5 linked regions of the Homo sapiens genome follow. The protein of the gene in region 1 purifies or fractionates together with the protein of each later gene. This does not show direct contact. Each region holds a gene or a part of one and is shown in the gene's direction. Other genes may lie near its edges. The genes, in order: SH3GLB2, THG1L, TBCD, RPUSD2 and LZTFL1.

Evidence for each region.
Region 2: the proteins of SH3GLB2 (region 1) and THG1L fractionate together in Homo sapiens (co-fractionation; one large-scale study listed by BioGRID). This does not show direct contact.
Region 3: the proteins of SH3GLB2 (region 1) and TBCD fractionate together in Homo sapiens (co-fractionation; one large-scale study listed by BioGRID). This does not show direct contact.
Region 4: the proteins of SH3GLB2 (region 1) and RPUSD2 fractionate together in Homo sapiens (co-fractionation; one large-scale study listed by BioGRID). This does not show direct contact.
Region 5: the proteins of SH3GLB2 (region 1) and LZTFL1 fractionate together in Homo sapiens (co-fractionation; one large-scale study listed by BioGRID). This does not show direct contact.

Annotation. Positions count from the first base shown.
Region 1 is NC_000009.12:129,025,521-129,029,621, reverse strand, and holds the start of SH3GLB2 (endophilin-B2), read left to right. Parts: upstream 1-1,290; 5' UTR 1,291-1,467; coding exon 1,468-1,530; exon of another isoform or gene 1,531-1,963; coding exon of another isoform or gene 1,964-2,059; intron 2,060-4,101.
Region 2 is NC_000005.10:157,734,402-157,737,919, forward strand, and holds part of THG1L (probable tRNA(His) guanylyltransferase), read left to right. Parts: intron 1-174; coding exon 175-344; intron 345-1,444; coding exon 1,445-1,533; intron 1,534-3,485; coding exon 3,486-3,518. UniProt on the Homo sapiens protein: Adds a GMP to the 5'-end of tRNA(His) after transcription and RNase P cleavage. This step is essential for proper recognition of the tRNA and for the fidelity of protein synthesis.
Region 3 is NC_000017.11:82,758,564-82,762,081, forward strand, and holds part of TBCD (tubulin-specific chaperone D), read left to right. Parts: intron 1-3,518.
Region 4 is NC_000015.10:40,572,284-40,575,452, forward strand, and holds the end of RPUSD2 (pseudouridylate synthase RPUSD2), read left to right. Parts: intron 1-1,243; coding exon 1,244-1,978; 3' UTR 1,979-2,666; downstream 2,667-3,169. UniProt on the Homo sapiens protein: Pseudouridine synthase that catalyzes pseudouridylation of mRNAs.
Region 5 is NC_000003.12:45,832,117-45,835,634, reverse strand, and holds part of LZTFL1 (leucine zipper transcription factor-like protein 1), read left to right. Parts: coding exon 1-45; intron 46-1,336; coding exon 1,337-1,397; intron 1,398-2,513; coding exon 2,514-2,585; intron 2,586-3,518. UniProt on the Homo sapiens protein: Regulates ciliary localization of the BBSome complex. Together with the BBSome complex, controls SMO ciliary trafficking and contributes to the sonic hedgehog (SHH) pathway regulation. May play a role in neurite outgrowth. May have tumor suppressor function.

The DNA of each region.
Region 1 (4,101 bases):
ACAGTCACCCAACCTTTGATCTCCTCCTCTCACCACACAGGGGGCTCCAGGCCCCAGCTCCAGAACCCCCTCCCTTCCCGTGACCGCCACCCCAACCCTCCTCCAATTTGGGGAAGCCACAGGGCCTCCCAGGCTGACAAACAGCTGTTCCAGCGGTGGAGGGCAAGTCCCAAGCCTGACTCCGGCTCAGTCACCAAGGTCAGGGCAGAAGAGAGGAGGAGAGGTCAGAGAGGAGGAGTAACGGGAGGAAACCCAAGGGAAACAGAGTGGAAGAAATGGGAATGGGAGGGAGGGGGTGTGAATAAAGAGCGGAGATGAAGAGGCACAAACAGGGGAGAGGCAGCAGGCCTGGGTGGTGGGAGGAGAAAGCAAGAGAGGCCCATTTTAGAGATCTGTTGCACATATTGGTGACTACTCAGTCACTTAGTGACTTTGGGAGACTGAGGCAGGCAGATTGCCTGAGATCAGGAGTTCAAGACCACCCTGGGCAACATGGCAAAACCTTGTCTCTCCTAAAGTACAAAAAATTAGCGGGGCATGTTGGTGGGCGCCTGTAGTCCCAGCTACTCGGGAGGCTGAATGAAGCAGGAGAATCGCTTGAGCCCGGCAGGTGGAGGCTGCAGTGAGCCGAGATCGCGCCACTGCACTCCAGCCTGGGCGACAGAGCAAGACTCTGTCTACAAAAAAAAAAAAAAAGTATTGCATATTTCAAAATTGCTAAAAGAGTACATTTGAAATGTTCTAACCACAAAAAAAGTAGGTGAGGTGATGGATATGTCAATTAACTTGATTTCATCATTCCACAATTTCATCACCTTGTAGGCCGTAAATATATATTTATCAATTAAAACTTTTGAAAAGCATTGGTAAGATGGCAAATAATATGTAATTATGGCGTGTACCTGCAATCATCTAAGAGCACATGTGTTCCAGTTTTAATAATTTTAGTAAAAGGAAAAAAAGAGGCCGGCCCAATCCGCGGCGGCAGGCGCATGGGGGCAGCAGCGAGCACTGCCCAGCAGCGAGCCCTGCCCAGCACAACCTGCTCCCCAGACCAACCCCCGCTCTGGCCGCGCCAAGGCCTCGCCCCCACCCATGTAGCTCCGCCCCACTGCCCTCTCGCTCCGCCCCTGTCCCGCCAGTCCCGCCCCCTCCGACTCCGCCCGGCTTCCGCCAACCAGCCCGGCCCCCGCCCCTCTAGCTCCGCCCCACTGCCGTCCCGTCCCGCCCCGGCACCGCCAGCTCCGCCCCCGCCCCTCTGGCTCCGACCCGCGGCCTCCGCGCCCCGCCCTGCGCGCTCGGGCTGGCTCGGCGGCTGCGGCGGGCGGGCAGGCGGGCAGGCCGGCAGGCGGGTGCGCGGAGGGCTGGTGCCCCGCAGCAGGTGGGCGGGGTGCGGTTGGCGGCGGCGGCTGGGCCGGGGGCTGCCGGCTGCGCTCGGGCCGTGCGCGGCGGCCGTGCGGGCACGCCATGGACTTCAACATGAAGAAGCTGGCGTCGGACGCGGGCATCTTCTTCACCCGGGCGGTGCAGGTGAGGCCTGGCGTCGCGCCGTGCGCCGGGGGCCCGGATGTGCGGCGGGCGGGGAGCACCCTGCGGCAGACGCCTGGGGACGCGGGAAAGCCCTCCCGGGCTGCTGCCCTCGTCCCCGCCGCGGCACACCTCTGCCCCCCTGAGCCCTTGCTGACCGGAAGAGGGAAAGAGCCCGTGCGGCCCGAGCCGGGCCTTGGCCCTGCTGCCTGGGGCGAGGCACCGGTGCCCACCCTTTGGGCTGGTTGGGTTACCCTGCTCCCCTGGCGCCTGCCTGGCTGAGGAGGGGAGGAGGCACCGGCTGGGTGCTACCTCCCTGCCCTTGTCCAGCAGTGACTGGCGCCTGGCGGGGCATTTAGCGACCTGGGTCCCAGGCCCAGGGACTCATGCGTCCACCACAACCCCTTCTCCGAGCCTCAGTCTCCGCACCTGTGCAATGGGCGGCTGGTGCCATGAGTCCCTCATGGCCATTTCACACGTTTGGATAGTCAGGCCGGAAGCCAGGAGTTGTTTCTTTTCTGCTCCACGGGAGGTCTGTTTCCTTGGTCCCTGGGCCTGGGGGATGGAGAGAGGGCTGGGGTCTGGCTGGGAAGCTGTCCAGGCCCACGATGCTGAGATTGGAAGAAGTCCTATCCGTTTAGGGGCAGAGAGTAACAGGCAACTCAACATCATGGGAAGACCTAGGGTCAGGTGTGGGTGGGAATGTGCCCTCCTGTGACCTTGGGGGAGGGGCCTTCATCTCACTGGGCCTCAGTTTCTCAGTCTGAAAAATGGGATCAGTATTCCTGCCTCCCAGGACAGATGCGAGGATTCTGTGGGACTCTGCATATGTGTGCTCACCAAAGGCAAGCTCATTATTGGTGTCAAAGTGGTTAATATTGCACCTGTGCAGCATGTGACCTTGGACAAGTCACTTCTCTCAGAGCCCCGCCCTCCCCTTCTGTAAATCTGGTGTAACACCGTGGTTATGGGATTCAGTGGGATTCCGCAGGCCCGGGGCTGGCCCATCCCAGGGTTCTGGGAGCAGGTCCTGTAGTCTTGTCTTTGTCGTTGTCGTTGTCATCGTTGTTGTTTCTGTTGAGTACAGTTCTCTCCCCACCCCCAACCCGGGCACTCCCCTCCCCAGGAGCCCACACCCAGCCAGCAACCCATGTAGTCATGTTTACTAGAAGGTGCTGTGTCCCGCTGAGGATTAGCATCCCAGCGAGAATTCACTGCTTAATGTGTTCCAAGTCTGGTGGGCAGCCCCAGCCCTAGTGGAGATGCCAGGATCCCAGAGCCCCTCGGATTGGACGGCCCCAGTCCATCTGGGAGGGGGGAACCCACTCTGCTGTTGGTATGGCAACCACACTATCTCCCACATCTGGGAAGAACCTGATCTGCCAGTTCCCTGCTAGGGCTGGGGCCCTGCTGCCTGACCTGGCCAGGGCTCTCAGGACCTAGGCAGGGCAGGGCCTAGGTGTGGCTCCGCTTGGTGGGAGCTGCCCCACAGGGTCACTGTTACTGGAGTGGGAGCCAGCAGTCAGGCCCCAGCCTCGGGGTGGGAGGGAGGGAGCTGAGAGCTTTATAAATAGAGGCTTTCTCTGCTCTGCACGCCCACCCCACTGCTGCCATTTTCCCGGGAGCAGCCTCGGACTCCAGCACCAAACCCCTTCCTCTTGGCAGGATTGGGGCAGAGTGGCAGGCCAGGGGATAGAGAGGCCTGAAATGTGACCTGGCAGGAGAGGCCACAGAGGGGCTCCGCCTGAGACCAAGCTGGCCTGGATGGGAGACAGTCAGGAGGGATGGGAGAGGGGTTCTTTATGATCAATACATGTGATGGGCTCAGGAACCTCCCAGTCCCTGCAGGTACAAGAAACAACTTTAAGAGCCTCCCCGATCCAGCAAGGAACAAGGCCTTGGCCCTGAGATGAGGATCCAGAGGGCAGGATCCCTTTTGTATGGGTCATTCTGGGATGGTCTCCTGCATGGAGGGCCCCTGAACTGTGCTCAGAAAGTAGGGAGGGGCTCATGATGTTGGTCCAAGTGGCAGGAGCAGCCCAGATAAGGGCACCGAGGCAAGAAAACCTAAGGCAGATTTGGACAAGATGCCAGTGGGGGTGGGAGAGGGCAGGAGGAGTGATAGTACTAATACTATTAGTAGTAATTGCAGTAACAGTAATAGTAGTGGTAGAAGTAATACTTATAAAGTCCAGAGAGGTGGTGGCATCGTCATCATGGAGCTAGGCAGACTGCAGTGGACATGGGATGGATGCCGTCTAGTTTGGGAAAGCCTGGTAGAACTTCTCACCTGGGCAGATGTGGCCTGTAAGGGAGGGCGGGGTGGGGAGTGCTGCTCTGAACCTTGGTAAGGAGGGGAGGTGTTGAGGTGCACATTTAGGGTGATGCCCTTGGTACCATCAGGGTAGCTCCTGAGAGCTGAGGAGGGATGTGAGGGAGGCCTGCCTGCCTGCCTGCCTGCCTGCCTGCCTTCCTTCCTTCCTCCCTTAGTCCCTCTCTCCTTTCTTCTTTCCTTCCTTTTTTTTTTTTGAGACAGAGTCTCATCCTGTCGCCGAGGCTGGAGTGCAGTGGCAC
Region 2 (3,518 bases), on another chromosome or scaffold:
AAATACAGAACCAAGGTATTAAAATAGTGTTTCTTAGCCAAATGCATTTTATCTCCTGGCTTTCTGGGCAGTTTGTGTACTCTCTGTGGTACCCACAGGTCTTATCATGGTGTTGAACTAATTCCGTGTATTTTTCTTTTTCTTACTCCACCCAATGTGCGTTACATTTTCAAGTAAGTTCATGACTCACGTGGCCTCCCAGTTTGCCTCCAGCTATGTGTTTTATTGGCGGGATTACTTTGAGGACCAGCCCCTTCTGTATCCCCCAGGCTTTGACGGAAGAGTCGTGGTGTATCCCAGCAACCAGACTTTAAAGGACTACCTCAGCTGGCGACAAGCAGATTGTGAGTGGCACCAAATAAACACATGTAGTTAAACCACCAATTCCATGTCTTACAGGTGTTGATCTGATACAGGATTGGCTCACATATACTTTGTTTCAACATATACGTTGTACAGAATGCAGTATTTAAATATTTTTTCAATTAGTTAAAAGTATTTGAAAAATTAAATTTTACGTAAAAACTCCTTATCTCTATTTTTTTTTTTTTTTAAGACAGAGTTTCGCTCTTGTTGCCCAGGCTGGAATGCAGTGGTGTCATCTTGGCTCACTGCAACCTCCACCTCCTGGGTTCATGGGATTCTTCTGCCTCAGCCTCCCGAGTAGCTGGGATTACAGGCATGTGCCACCACGCCCGGCTGATTCTGTATTTTTTAGTAGAAATGGGGTTTCTCCATGTTGGTCAGGCTGGTCTTGAACTCCTGACCTCAGGTGATCCACCCGCCTTGGCCTCCCAAAGTGCTGGGATTATAGGCGTGAGCCACCACGCCCAGCCGCCTTATCTCTATTTTTTAAAAAAATCAGATGTGGCAATACTGGATCTGCATTCTTACTTAGTACTAGACAAAGCCTGTTCAGTGGCAGCTACCTTTACACACACACACACACACAAATGCCAGTGTGCCATAGTCTCTGCCATTCCCTGTTGTTCCTCTGGGGTCACCCACTGCTTTACACATTTATGTTCATGCTGGCCTCAGTGGGTATTTGAATTGTGACCCTTGCCTTATGTGACTGTGATGATGTTTGTGAGGCTTTTACTTGCTTGTTCTAGTTTGAATTTTCCAGAAGAACTGGAAAAGAGATTGAAATAATATAAATCAAATAACTTCTAAAGTATTCCTAGGATTAACACACAAGTTAACAGATTTGTATAATGTGTAACTGAAATGACCAAATAAAACTGTTGTTAGGGATGAAGTTTTTTCCCTACTGCTCCTTCCCTCCATGTTCCGTGTGTAGGACTTCGGTCAAGTCACTGAATGTCTCTGAGATCTCTTTACTATGAAAGAGGAGAGGGTCAGGGCTCTAGTATTCCTTGAAGAATGAATATTCAATAAAGATTTTATGTATATAAACATTACTATTTTGTTCTCCTCACAGGTCACATCAATAATCTTTATAATACAGTTTTCTGGGCACTTATACAACAATCTGGACTAACACCAGTACAAGCCCAAGGGAGATTACAGGTATAAAGATCTTACTACATTAATACTTAACTGGGGACAGTTCGCTGTAGGCTCTCCCATAACTTTTTTTTTGTTAAATTTACATTTCTTTCTTTTAAGATCCCTGTACAGCTTTGTTTTGAAAGGATATAAAAATCATAATAGGAGCAGCTCTGCTGCCTGCTTGGTCTGTAATCCTGGATGAATTACTGCTTCTCCCTGAGCCTTTGTGTTCTTAGTGGAAAATGGAATTGACGGCACTGGCTCTGCATTCCCACGTGCTAACACTTGCCTGAAGCCGTGTATGACTGTGTATGACTGCCGTCTTCAGCACTGACTTTTTTTTTTTTTTTTGAGACACAGTTTCACTCTGTTGCCCAGGCTGCAGTACAGTGGTGTGATCTCAGCTGATTGCAACCTCCACCTCCTGTGCTCAAGCGATTCTCGTGCCTCAGCCTCCCAAGTAGCTGGGATTACAGGTGCATGCCACCACACCCAGCTAATTTTTGTATTTTTAGTAGAGACAGGGTTTCACCCCGTTGGCCAGGCTGGTCTTGAACTCCTGACCTGAAGTGATCTGCCTGCCTGGGCCTCCCAGAGTGCTGGGATTACAGGCGTGAGCCAGTGAGCCACCACACCTGGCCAGCACTGAATTTTTGTCAGTCCCACCACGCCTCTTCCCTCATTGCCATTTTCCCTGCTGGGCACCTGTAGTTTCTTGGGTTTATGACCTCTGTGTATAGGAAGAGTTCGTGCTGAGTTTGTTACTTTCATAAATGTCATAATAACTACTCACATCATGCTTCTGTGTAATTTTATCCTTTCTGCCTCAGTTCTTTATAGGTAAAATGTAGAAAATAGTAGTTTCTACCTCATAGGTTTATGGTGAGAATTAAATGGCATGATGCACGTAAAACACAGAATCGTATGAAGCACATTGTAAGTGCTTAATAAATACTGGTTTTTGTTATAACAGTGCTACTTGTAGGATGACTAACTGTGAAGTGAGGTAATGTGTTGTAACAGATCTTTTATTTGTATTTTATTTTATCTATTTATTTATTTTTTGAGATGGGTTCTTGCTATTTTCCCCAGGCTGGTCTTGAACTCCTGGGCTCCAGCAGTCCGCCCACCTCAGCCTCCCAAGTAGCTGGGATTACAGGTGCATGCCACTGTGCCCAGCTGTAACAGTTACTAATACAATGCCTGGTACATTATGTTTGCTCAATAAATGGTTGTCATTTTTAATAATAGTAATGATAGAGATTTTTATATAGCAATAATAGGAAAACTGGGGCCTGGTGTGGTGGTTCACGCATGTAATCCCAGCACTCTGAGGAGGCCAAGGTAGGTGGATCACCTGACGTCAGGAGTTCAAGACCAGCCTGGCCAACATGGTGAGACCGCTTCTCTACAAAAATTAGCTGGGTGTGCTGGCACACACCTGTAATCCCAGCGACTCAGGAGGCTGAGGCATGAGAATCGCTTGAACCTGGGAGGTGGCAGTTGCAGTGAGCTGAGATTGCACCACTGCACTCCAACCTGGGCAACAGAGTGAGACTTTGTCTAAAAAAAAAAAAGGCATACTGGTAGGTATATCCAGGTTTGGAAGAGTCAAGTTCAGATTTCAATTCTTCGTAGAAGAATAAGGACAACCTTTTAACCTTGGGGAATTTATATAACCTTTCTAAGTTTTACTGGACCAAATACATAATATGTATTCAGTTAGTATTAATTCTCCCCACTCCCTTTCAGTCTTGACTTGTGAAGCCAGTGTTTGGTATAGGAGAGAATTTTATCTAAGTAAGATCATAATTGCCCTTAAGATGAAAATTTACTAATAACTATAAGATGTTTGATAAAATCCTTCCACTTCTTGATTGTGGAAATTTAGGTTGTGGGTCGAATGGATAGTAGCACTAGGGGAGAAAGAAGACATGCAGAGCTTTTAATATCTATTTTTATTTTCTCAGGGAACTCTTGCAGCAGACAAGAATGAGATTTTG
Region 3 (3,518 bases), on another chromosome or scaffold:
CTGGAATTCCTTTTTAGAAAAAGGAAAATGTAGTCGTGGGATGCTGGTCCTTTGTCATTTGTTGCACATTTTTCCACCCTTTTGCTTTTTTTTTTTTCTTTTTTTTTTTTTTTTTTGAGATGTAGTCTCTCTGTTGCCCAGGCTGGAGTATAGTGGCCCAATCTTGGCTCACTGCAACTTCTGCCTCCAGGGTTCAAGCGATTCTCCTGCCTCAGCCTCCAGCGTAGCTGGGATTACAGGCGTGTGCTACCACGCCTGGCTAATTTTTTGCATTTTTAGTAGAGACAGGGTTTCACCATGTTGGCCAGGCTGGTCTCAAACTCCTGACCCCCACGTGATCTGCCCACCTTGGTCTCCCAAAGTGCTGGGATTACAGGTGTGAGCCATTGTGCCCGGCCTGCTTTTGCCTTTTAATATTGTGTCTGGTGTATTTTATCTACTGAAGTTTTTTCGTGTTTGTTTTTTTAAAGAGATGGGATCTCGCTCTGTCACCCAGGCTGGAGTGTAGTGGCGCAGTCATAGCTCACTGCAGCCTTGAGCTCCTGGGATTAAGTGATCTTCTCACTTCAGCCTCCTGCAGAGCTGGGACAACAGGCACAAGCTGCCATGCCTAGTTAATTAAAAAACTTTTTTTTTTGGCCAGGCGCAGTAGCTCATGCCTCTGATCCTAGCACTTTGGGAGGCCGAGGCGGGTGGATTACAAGGTCAGGAGTTCAAGACCAGCCTGACCAACATGGTGAAACCCTGTCTCTACTAAAAATACAAAAATTAGCTGGGCATGGTGAAGCATGCCTGTAATCCCAGCTACTTGAGAGGCCGAGGCAGGAGAATTGCTTGAACTGGGACCCAGGACGCGGAGGTAGCAGTGAACGAGATCGTGCCACTGCACTCCAGCGTGGGCTACAGAGCCAGACTGTCTCAAAAAAAAAAAAATTTTGTTTTTGCAGGGTCAGGGTCACGCTGTGTTCCTCAGGCTGGTCTCGAACTTCTGGCCCCAAGCAATCCTGCCTTGGCCTCCCACAGTGCTGGGATGACAGGTGTGAGCCACTGCACCCAGTCTCTACTGAAGTTTTAGAAATATTTAGCTTGTCAAACTATCAGTTTCTTTGTGTTTGGCCTTTGGTAGTACGGTTAGAAAGTTTATTTTTCCTAATCAGTTATGTAAGCCTCATTTATTGGATGATTTAGTGGCCTCTCCCCTACTTGAAATGCCATTTTAAATCTATATTAAATATTCAAATATATTAGCCTTTGCTTTTAGATTTTTTATCCTGTTCCATTGACCTATCTGTATGCTCTTTTTTCTGGGTCATTTCGTTTGTTTGTTTTTTTTTTTTTTTTGAGATGGAGTCTCGCTCTGTCACCCAGGCTGGAGTGCAGTGGCGTGTTCTTGGCTTACTGCAACCTCCGCCTCCCAGGTTCAAGAGATTCTCCTGCCTCAGCCTCCCGAGTAGCATGTGCCACCACGCCTGGCTAATTTTTGTATTTTTAGTAGAGAACGGTTTTCATCATGTTGGCCAGGATAGTCTCGAACTCCTGACCTCAAGCAGTCTGCCCGCCTTGGCCTCCCAAAGTGCTGGAATTAGAGGCGTGAGCCACCACGCCTGGCCTGGGTCATTTTGTTTGATGTTAGTTTATATTTTGCCTGGCATCCTTTCCTCTTATTTTCTTGATGGTTTTGTAGCCCGTTCATTAATGCGGATGAACTCCGGAATTATTTTATCACTCTCCACCCTTTGGAATTCTATTAAATTCACAAATTCATGTAGGGGAGAAGTCTTTCTAAGATTTAATTTTCATGTCTAAGATCATGGTATTATGTCTCTAATTATTCACATCTTTTGTGTTCCTCAGTGAAGGTTGGTGATTTTCTTTAGATGATTCCTGGAGACTTTTTTTTAGGTTTATTTCTAGGTATGTTTTGTCTTTTATTGCTCTTGTGAAACTATTTGTTATGTGTTCTAACTAGTTATTGCTGATGTCTAGTGAAGATATGTTTTGTATACTGTTTTTGTAAATGGCAACACTGTAATGGAATATGTATGTGTAAACATACATTTCTTAACATCTTTATAGGGATATAATTACATACTATAGAGTTCACTCTTCTAAATATACATTTTAGTGTTAGTGTATTAGTGTATTACAGAGTTGTGTAACTATCACTACCACAATCTAGGCATTTTCATCATCTGAAGCAACCCAACTCCCATCAACAATTCCTTCCCATTCTCTGCTTCCGCAGTAACCACTCATCTGGCTCTGGGTTTGTGTGTATTCAGCATTTTGTGTGATGGAATCATGCAGTAGGAGGTCTTTTGGCACTGGCTTTTTTCACTTAGCATCATGTCTATGAGGTTCACTGTGTGATGAAATGTTTACTTCAATAGTTTTTCAGTCTTTTTTTTTTTTTGGAGACAAAGTCTTGCTCTGTCACCCAGGCTGGAGTGTAATGGCGTGATCTTGGCTCACTGCAACCTCCTTCTCCTGGGTTCAAGCGATTCTCCTGCCTCAGCCTCCTGAGTAGCTGGGATTACAGGCGCCACCTGTAAAATTAGCCTGGCCAATTTTTGTATTCTGAGTAGAGACAGGGTTTCACCATGATGGCCAGGCTTGTCTTGAACTCCTGACCTCAGGTGATCCACCTGCCTCGGCCTCCCAAAGTGCTGGGATTACAGGCGTGAGCCACCGTGCCCGGCCAGTTGTTTCTTCTGGGTTTTCTTAGCAGGTAAATATTATATGGTTTGTAAATAATGCTACTCTTTATCCACGATTATAAATTTTTATTCTTAGAACATTTTATTGAGTTTTAATTTTATTGAGTTTAAAATTTACCTACTATAAAATGCACCCATTTTAGTAAGATGTTTGAGTTTCGGTAAATGTATACACCCCGCGCTATCAAGATATGGAACATTTCTGTCATCCCAAGGAGTTACTTGATGTCCTTTTGCTGTCAGTCCCCTCACCCCAGCCCTAGGGAACCACTGTTGGTTAATGGTACTGTTCATTAGTTTTGCCTGTTCTAGAATCATTCAGTATGTGCTCTTTTTGTCTTCCGTTGTTAAAATAACATCTCCGGGACTTACCATTGTTGGTGTGTGTATCAGTAGTTTGTACGTTTTCTCTCGTGCTGATAAATCACAATTTGTTTCTTCTTTTTTTTTTTTGAGATGGAGTCTTGGTCTGTTGCCCAGGCTGGAGTGCGGTGGAGTGCAGTGGTGCGATCTCGGCTCACTGCAAGCTCTGCCACCCGGGTTCACGCCATTCTCCTGCCTCAGCCTCCCGAGTAGCTGGGACTACGGGTGCCCGCCAACACACCCAGCTAATTTTTTTTTTATTTTTAGTAGAGACGGGGTTTCACCTTGTTAACCAGGATGGTCTCGATCTCCTGACCTCGTGATCCGCCCGCCTCAGCCTTCCAAAGTGCTGGGGTTGTTTCTTCTTTTATCTGTTGATGGACATTTGAGTTGTTTCCGGTTTTTGGCTGTTATTAATAATGCTACTTTTTGGGAGGC
Region 4 (3,169 bases), on another chromosome or scaffold:
CAGGCGCAGTGGCTCACGCCTGTAATCCCAACACTTTGGGAGGCCGAGGCGGGCAGATCACGAGGTCAGGAGATCGAGGTCATCCTGGCTAACACGGTGAAACCCCGTCTCTACTAAAAAAAAATACAAAAAATTAGCTGGGCGTGGTGGCGGGCACCTATAGTCCCAGCTACTCGGGAGGCTGAGGCAGGAGAATGGTGTGAACCCAAGAGGTGGAGCTTGCAGTGAGCCGAATCGCGCCACCGCACTCCAGCCTGGGTGACAGAGTGAGACTCTGTCTCAAAAAAAAAAAAAAAAACTTACCCTGGCATGGTGGCACATGCCTGTAGTCCCAGCTACTTGGGAGGCTGAGATAGGAGGATCACTTGGCCATGGGAGGTTGAGGCTGCAGTGAGCCATGAGCATGTCACTGCGTTCCAGCCTGAGCTATAGAACAAGACTCCGTCTCAAAGAAATAAATTAACATAAGAAAATAAAGTGCTGACAGGCTGAGCAAGGCTTTTAAGATTATGGGGAGAGCCTGCTTGGTGAAAAGATTCTAGATGTAGTTGGAAAAGTCTTGGGTAGAGGAGTTTAATGGTAATGATTGTTGTCCTGAGACTTGTAATTCTGGATCTGAATCATAATACATTTATTGAGTGCATGCTATATACCAGGCTTAGTATCAAGCACATTAGAGCCTAACTTACTGAATGCTTATCACAGCCCAATGAGGTAAATGCTTTTCTTTTCTTTTCTTTTTTTTTTTTTTTTTTTTTGAGATGGAGTTTCGCTCTTGTTGCCCAGTCTGGAGTGCAATGGTGTGATCCTGGCTCACTGCAACCTCCGCCTCCTGGGTTCAAGCAATTATCCTGCCTCAGCCTCCCAGGTAGCTGGGATGACTGGCATGCGCCACCACGCCTGGCTAATTTTGTATTTTTTAGTAGAGACGGGGTTTCTTCATGTTGGTCAGGCTGGTCTCGAACTTTCGACCTCAGGTGATCCACCCACCTCAGCTTCCCAAAGTGCTGGGATTACAGGCGTGAGCCACCTCACCCAGCTGGTAAATGCTTTTCTAATTTCACATTTTCTAGATGAGTTAGTAGGATTTAGAGGTTAAGTAATGTACCCAAGATCGCAAAACTGGCGAATGGTAGAGCTGGAGTTTGAATTTTCTGACACTGGTCCTTATCACTCCACAAAGAGTTTGGACTCCATGAATTTAGGCTTTGTACTGACTTTCTCCCTCTTCCCTCCTATGTAGCTGGAGAAGGAGTACGTGTGCCGGGTGGAAGGGGAGTTCCCCACTGAGGAAGTGACCTGTAAAGAACCCATCTTAGTGGTGTCTTACAAAGTAGGGGTGTGCCGTGTAGATCCCCGGGGCAAGCCCTGTGAGACAGTGTTCCAGAGGCTAAGCTACAATGGCCAGTCCAGTGTGGTACGGTGCCGGCCACTCACAGGCCGCACACACCAGATTCGAGTCCACCTTCAGTTCTTGGGCCATCCCATTCTCAACGACCCCATCTACAACTCAGTTGCCTGGGGTCCTTCTCGAGGCCGGGGCGGCTACATTCCCAAGACAAACGAGGAGTTGCTACGGGACCTGGTAGCAGAGCACCAGGCCAAACAGAGCCTGGATGTGCTAGATCTCTGTGAGGGTGACCTGTCCCCAGGACTCACAGACTCTACGGCCCCCTCCTCAGAGTTGGGCAAGGACGACCTGGAAGAGTTGGCTGCAGCTGCCCAGAAGATGGAGGAAGTAGCTGAGGCAGCCCCTCAGGAGTTGGACACAATAGCCTTGGCATCAGAGAAGGCAGTTGAAACAGATGTCATGAATCAAGAGACAGACCCACTCTGTGCAGAGTGCCGGCTGGTGCGACAGGATCCCTTGCCCCAAGACCTTGTGATGTTCCTACATGCCCTACGCTATAAAGGGCCAGGCTTTGAGTACTTTTCACCAATGCCTGCCTGGGCACAGGATGACTGGCAAAAGGACTGAGGGTGTGGCCAATGGAGGGATTGCTTCTTGGGTTGTGACAAGGATGGGCTATAGGGCAAGGGCTGACCCCATGGGCTAGTACTTGGGGTTTCTATAGGAATGAGGACGGGCTTCTAAAGAGACCTGCTCATACTTGCTACCTCCTTCCAGTGGGAATTTGGAGACTTTTTGGTTTGTAAATATATCCCTTTTTCTAACATCTTTGATGTCTGGTTTTCTTCCGGCTTCTTTTTTATTACTGATGTAAAATTCACATAACATAAAATTAACCACTTTAACTAGCCAGGCACAGTGGCTCATGGCTATAATCCTAGTACTTTGGGAGGTAGAAGTGAAAGGATCACTGGAGGCCAAGAGTTCAAGGTTAAAGTGAACTGTGATTGTGCTGCTGCACTCCAGAGCCTAGGTGACAGAGTGAGACCCTGTCTCTTAAAAAAAAAAAAAATTAACCAATTTAAGATGTACAGCGTAGTCACATTTAGTACATTCACAGTGTTGTACAACCATAACCTCATATATTTCCAAAACATTTTCATCACCCCAAAAGGAAACCTGTACCCATTAAGTAAGTGGTCACTTTCCACTCCCCTTCCACCAGCCTCTGGCAACCACTAATCTACTTTCTGTCTGTTTGGATTTGCCTGTTTATTCTGGACATTTTATATAAATGGAATGATAAAACATGTGACCTATGTCTCTGTTTCCCTTGGCATAATGTTTTCAAGGTTTATTCAACTTGTAGCATGTATCGGTACTTCATTCTTTTTTTATGGCAGAATAAGCTGTTGTATGGATATACCACGATTTGTCTATCTGTTCATCAGTTAATGGACATTTGGGTTGTTTCCACCATTTCATTATTGTGGATAGTGCTGCTGTGAACATTAAATATGTTTTCAGTTCTTTTGGGTATATACCTCACAGTGGAATTGCTGGGTCATATGGTAATTCTATGTTTAAATGTTTGAGAATCCACCAAACTTTTCCACAGCAGCTGAACCATTTTATATTGCCACCAGCAAGCATAGGGTTTCAATTTCTCTACATCTTCACCAACATTTGTTTTGTTTTGATTATAGTCATCCTAGTAGGAGTGAAGTGGCATCTCATTCTGGGTTGTTAGTCTTTTTGTTGTGGAGTGTAAGTGTTCTTTATATATTCTGGATGTGAGAGTCTTAGCAAAAAGACTAA
Region 5 (3,518 bases), on another chromosome or scaffold:
GTGGTATCTTAAGCTACAGACAGACATCTCTGAACTTGAAAACCGGTAATAAAATTTGAACTTGCAACTGTGACAATAATGGCCCAAGCATAATCTTAAAAGTTAGTGAACATCTTTGGCTGCATATTTTCTTGGGGCTAGTGTGTGAGGAAATTTGGGTAGGGTAACAGCAAAGCATTGAGTCACTGAGTGATCTCTTGGGTACCACTAAGCACCCTTTTAAAAGTTCTCTGTTTCTACTGTTCCTAGGTATTACAAAGGCCATCGAGATTTATGAAATTGCTTTTCAGGCTATCATTAATTATTTCTTACAGCATTTTTGTTAGCTTGGTCAGTATTACCATCAGTCTTTATAGATTGGTCAACTAAGAAATAGAGATTATGAGACAGTTGAAAAGTCAATTCAAATATAATAAATACCATCAATTCAATCCAGTAGCATTGGAAGTTTTCTAAATAATGGAATTTAAAAGTATACATTTATTAACTTTGAAATAGGAAATATACAAAAAAGCTTATAATATGGACATCTAAGAGCTCAAATTCAAAAAATATGGTAAAATTGGTGAAGTTGAAACTCATTTTAAGAAAAAGCATGCCAGAAATCAGGAAGGACTGACCGCCAAGCCCCGTGAACTACTCTAAGCACAGTCACAGCACATCAGTTCACATGCAGAGTGTTGAACAACGCTGAGGACAACCTATGAGCTGGGGAGGAAAATCATTGAACTTCTGCCACTGTCAGTAGATGACTGGTGAGAAAACTCTGAGAAGGTGGTGCTTTAAGAAGCTTAGAAGCTGACTGCTGTTAACACTCTAAGCTTGTGTGTAGTCACTTCTCATTGGCCTTTGCAAATCTTCAGATGGCACACCCCCACTATCTGTCTTTCCTAGGAATTTGTGGTACTCTTTTTCAGTAGATACTATGGACTATTTTCATTTTTCTGAGACTACTTTATTAAGAATCTTTTTTGAACACCTACTAGCTAACAATACACATTATGTAATAAAACAGTCTCCTCATAGCACCTCAAGAATACAAAGTTGACTATAAATTTTCCTCATATTTGTATTAACATTATGGTTTATTTCTAGCAGTAGATATTGCATACCTAGTAGATACAAAATGCCAGGTACTGTGGATGATTACATTTGAGTCCATGTGGTTTAGGTTCTCAACCATTTGCAACTAACATTTTTGATATGGTGAAGTTTGGTCCATCTTGCTCTGTTCTCTCTGGCATGTAATGGGTTGGTACCAGTGATTTTACTCTTCTTGCGTGTGATATAAATCTATTTTAAATGAATAATTTTTATCTTTGCTTTCTTCTTCAAGAGAATTATTAGAACAAGTTGCAGAATTTGAAAAAGCAGAGATTACATCTTCAAACAAAAAGGTAACTTTTTGGTCATTCTAAATCCATATCTTAATAGCCAGTATTTAAAATCCTCAAGTTGCTCAAAGAATTCAGAGATCAAAACTGAGAACTCTTAAGGAAAAGCATTCAATTCAAGAGTAAAATTCAGAAATTGTCTATCATATTTTCAGGCAAAAGAAAAAATGTTTTGGAAGTAACTGTGAAAAACTGCTTTTGTCTGTGATGGCTTACACATACACATGATCCCTAAGTTCAGTCTCAATCCCACTCATAAATACTCTACTCAGAAGATTCAGAGCGCAGGCTGTAGGGTCAGCCACACCTGGGTATACATCCTGGCTCTGTCACTTCCTGGCTGTGTTACCTTGAGCAGGTTATCTGAGGTAGCTGAGCTTCATTTTACTCATCTGACAAATGGAGACAATACTAGTAGTTATCTACCTCTCTTTCTAATCATTCTCATTAATTGGAGTGGCCACTTACCATTCCACTTCACGGGCACACCGTAAATACTCCATTGTTGGATAAATACTGCTGAGATGAATCTATGTACATACACATGCAAAATACTTTCCAGTTATTCCTTTGGGTCATATTTATGGCTAAGAAATTTCTGGATCAGAGGGCATGAATTATTTTATTTTTAATATATATTACTAAACTACTATATTATTTGTGCCAAGTTATTGTTTATCTGTATTATACTTGCCTAGATCTTCATCAATATTATTGTTTTTCACAGAGTCTAAGGTTCATGTAGAAATCACTGTTTCAGCTCCCACAGGCTAAAATTCTAGTTGCTAGATGCTAGGCTCTATATCAGATCTGGCTTTGAGCTCCTTCCGTCCCTCCTTTCTTCCCTCATTTTCCTTCTATCTATATATTTTTAAAAGATACAGGGAAGATAGGTTTTATTTTTGTCTCTAACATGTATGGGGCACTGTAGGACAGGCATATCCTAGGCACTGGGAGTAACAAAGGATGAAACCAACAGAAATCTCCACACCTGTGGAACTGACATCGCAGTGAATATGTTTATATATAGTATCTTCCACTTGCAAAGTGCAAGTGTTCAATGATTATACATGCTTTATTCTGTGGTGATTTCAGTTTGGTTTCTTTATTTTGTTTCAGCCCATCTTAGATGTCACAAAGCCAAAACTTGCTCCACTTAATGAAGGTGGAACAGCAGAACTCCTAAACAAGGTAATATTATTATTTTGAGAAACGGAAAGTCTCTCATTCTGTCCTGTCATTGCCTAGGGTGGAGAAACAGAAGTGGAAGGTTTGTTTCAGGTCCTCTGAGGATAATTAGTCCATTGCAGTAGTTTTACTTGATGGTACCCCATGGGCCAGAAGAGGGCATACTTAACCTTCTAGAGAGCCTGAAGTAGCTCCTGATCACACCTTTTCAAGGTAAAGTGAAGAGCATGAAATTTTGGACAGCGTTTATTGATGGACATTTAAAGTTTGTGATCTGCGGTAACAAGGAGAAGGGTTTTTAAGTTTATAAAAATTATTTATCAATTAGCCGGGTGTGGTGGTACGTGCCTATAGTCAGAGCTACTCGGGAGGCTGAGGCAGGAGAATTGCTTGAACCCGGGAGGTAGAGGTTGCAGTGAGCTGAGATCACGCCACTGCACTCTAGCCTGGGCGACAGAGCGAGACTCCATCTCAAAAAAAAAAAAAAATTATTTATCAGCACAGGTTGAGTATCCCTTATCCTTGGGACTAGAAGTGTTTTGGATTTCAGATTTTTGAATATTTGCATTATACAGACCCCAGTTGAGCATCCCAAATCCAAAAATCTGAAATCTGAAATGCTCCAATGAGCAGTTTCTTTGAGCATCATGTCAGCACTCAGAAAGTTTCTGATGTTGAAGCATTTCAGATTTCAGCTATTTTTCATGACCCTTGTATTCTCAACATTATGCTAGATGTTGTTAGAAATAAAAAGCAGTGTAATACCTGCTCCCTTGCCCTCAAAAATGTAATAGTTTGGGTTTTTTATTGTTGTTTGTTGGTTTGTTTTTTTGAGACAGAGTCTTGCTCTGTCGCCCAGGCTGGAGTGCGGTGGCGTGATCTAGGCTCACTCCAAGCTCCACCTCCCGGGTTCACGCCATTCTCCTGCCTCAGCCT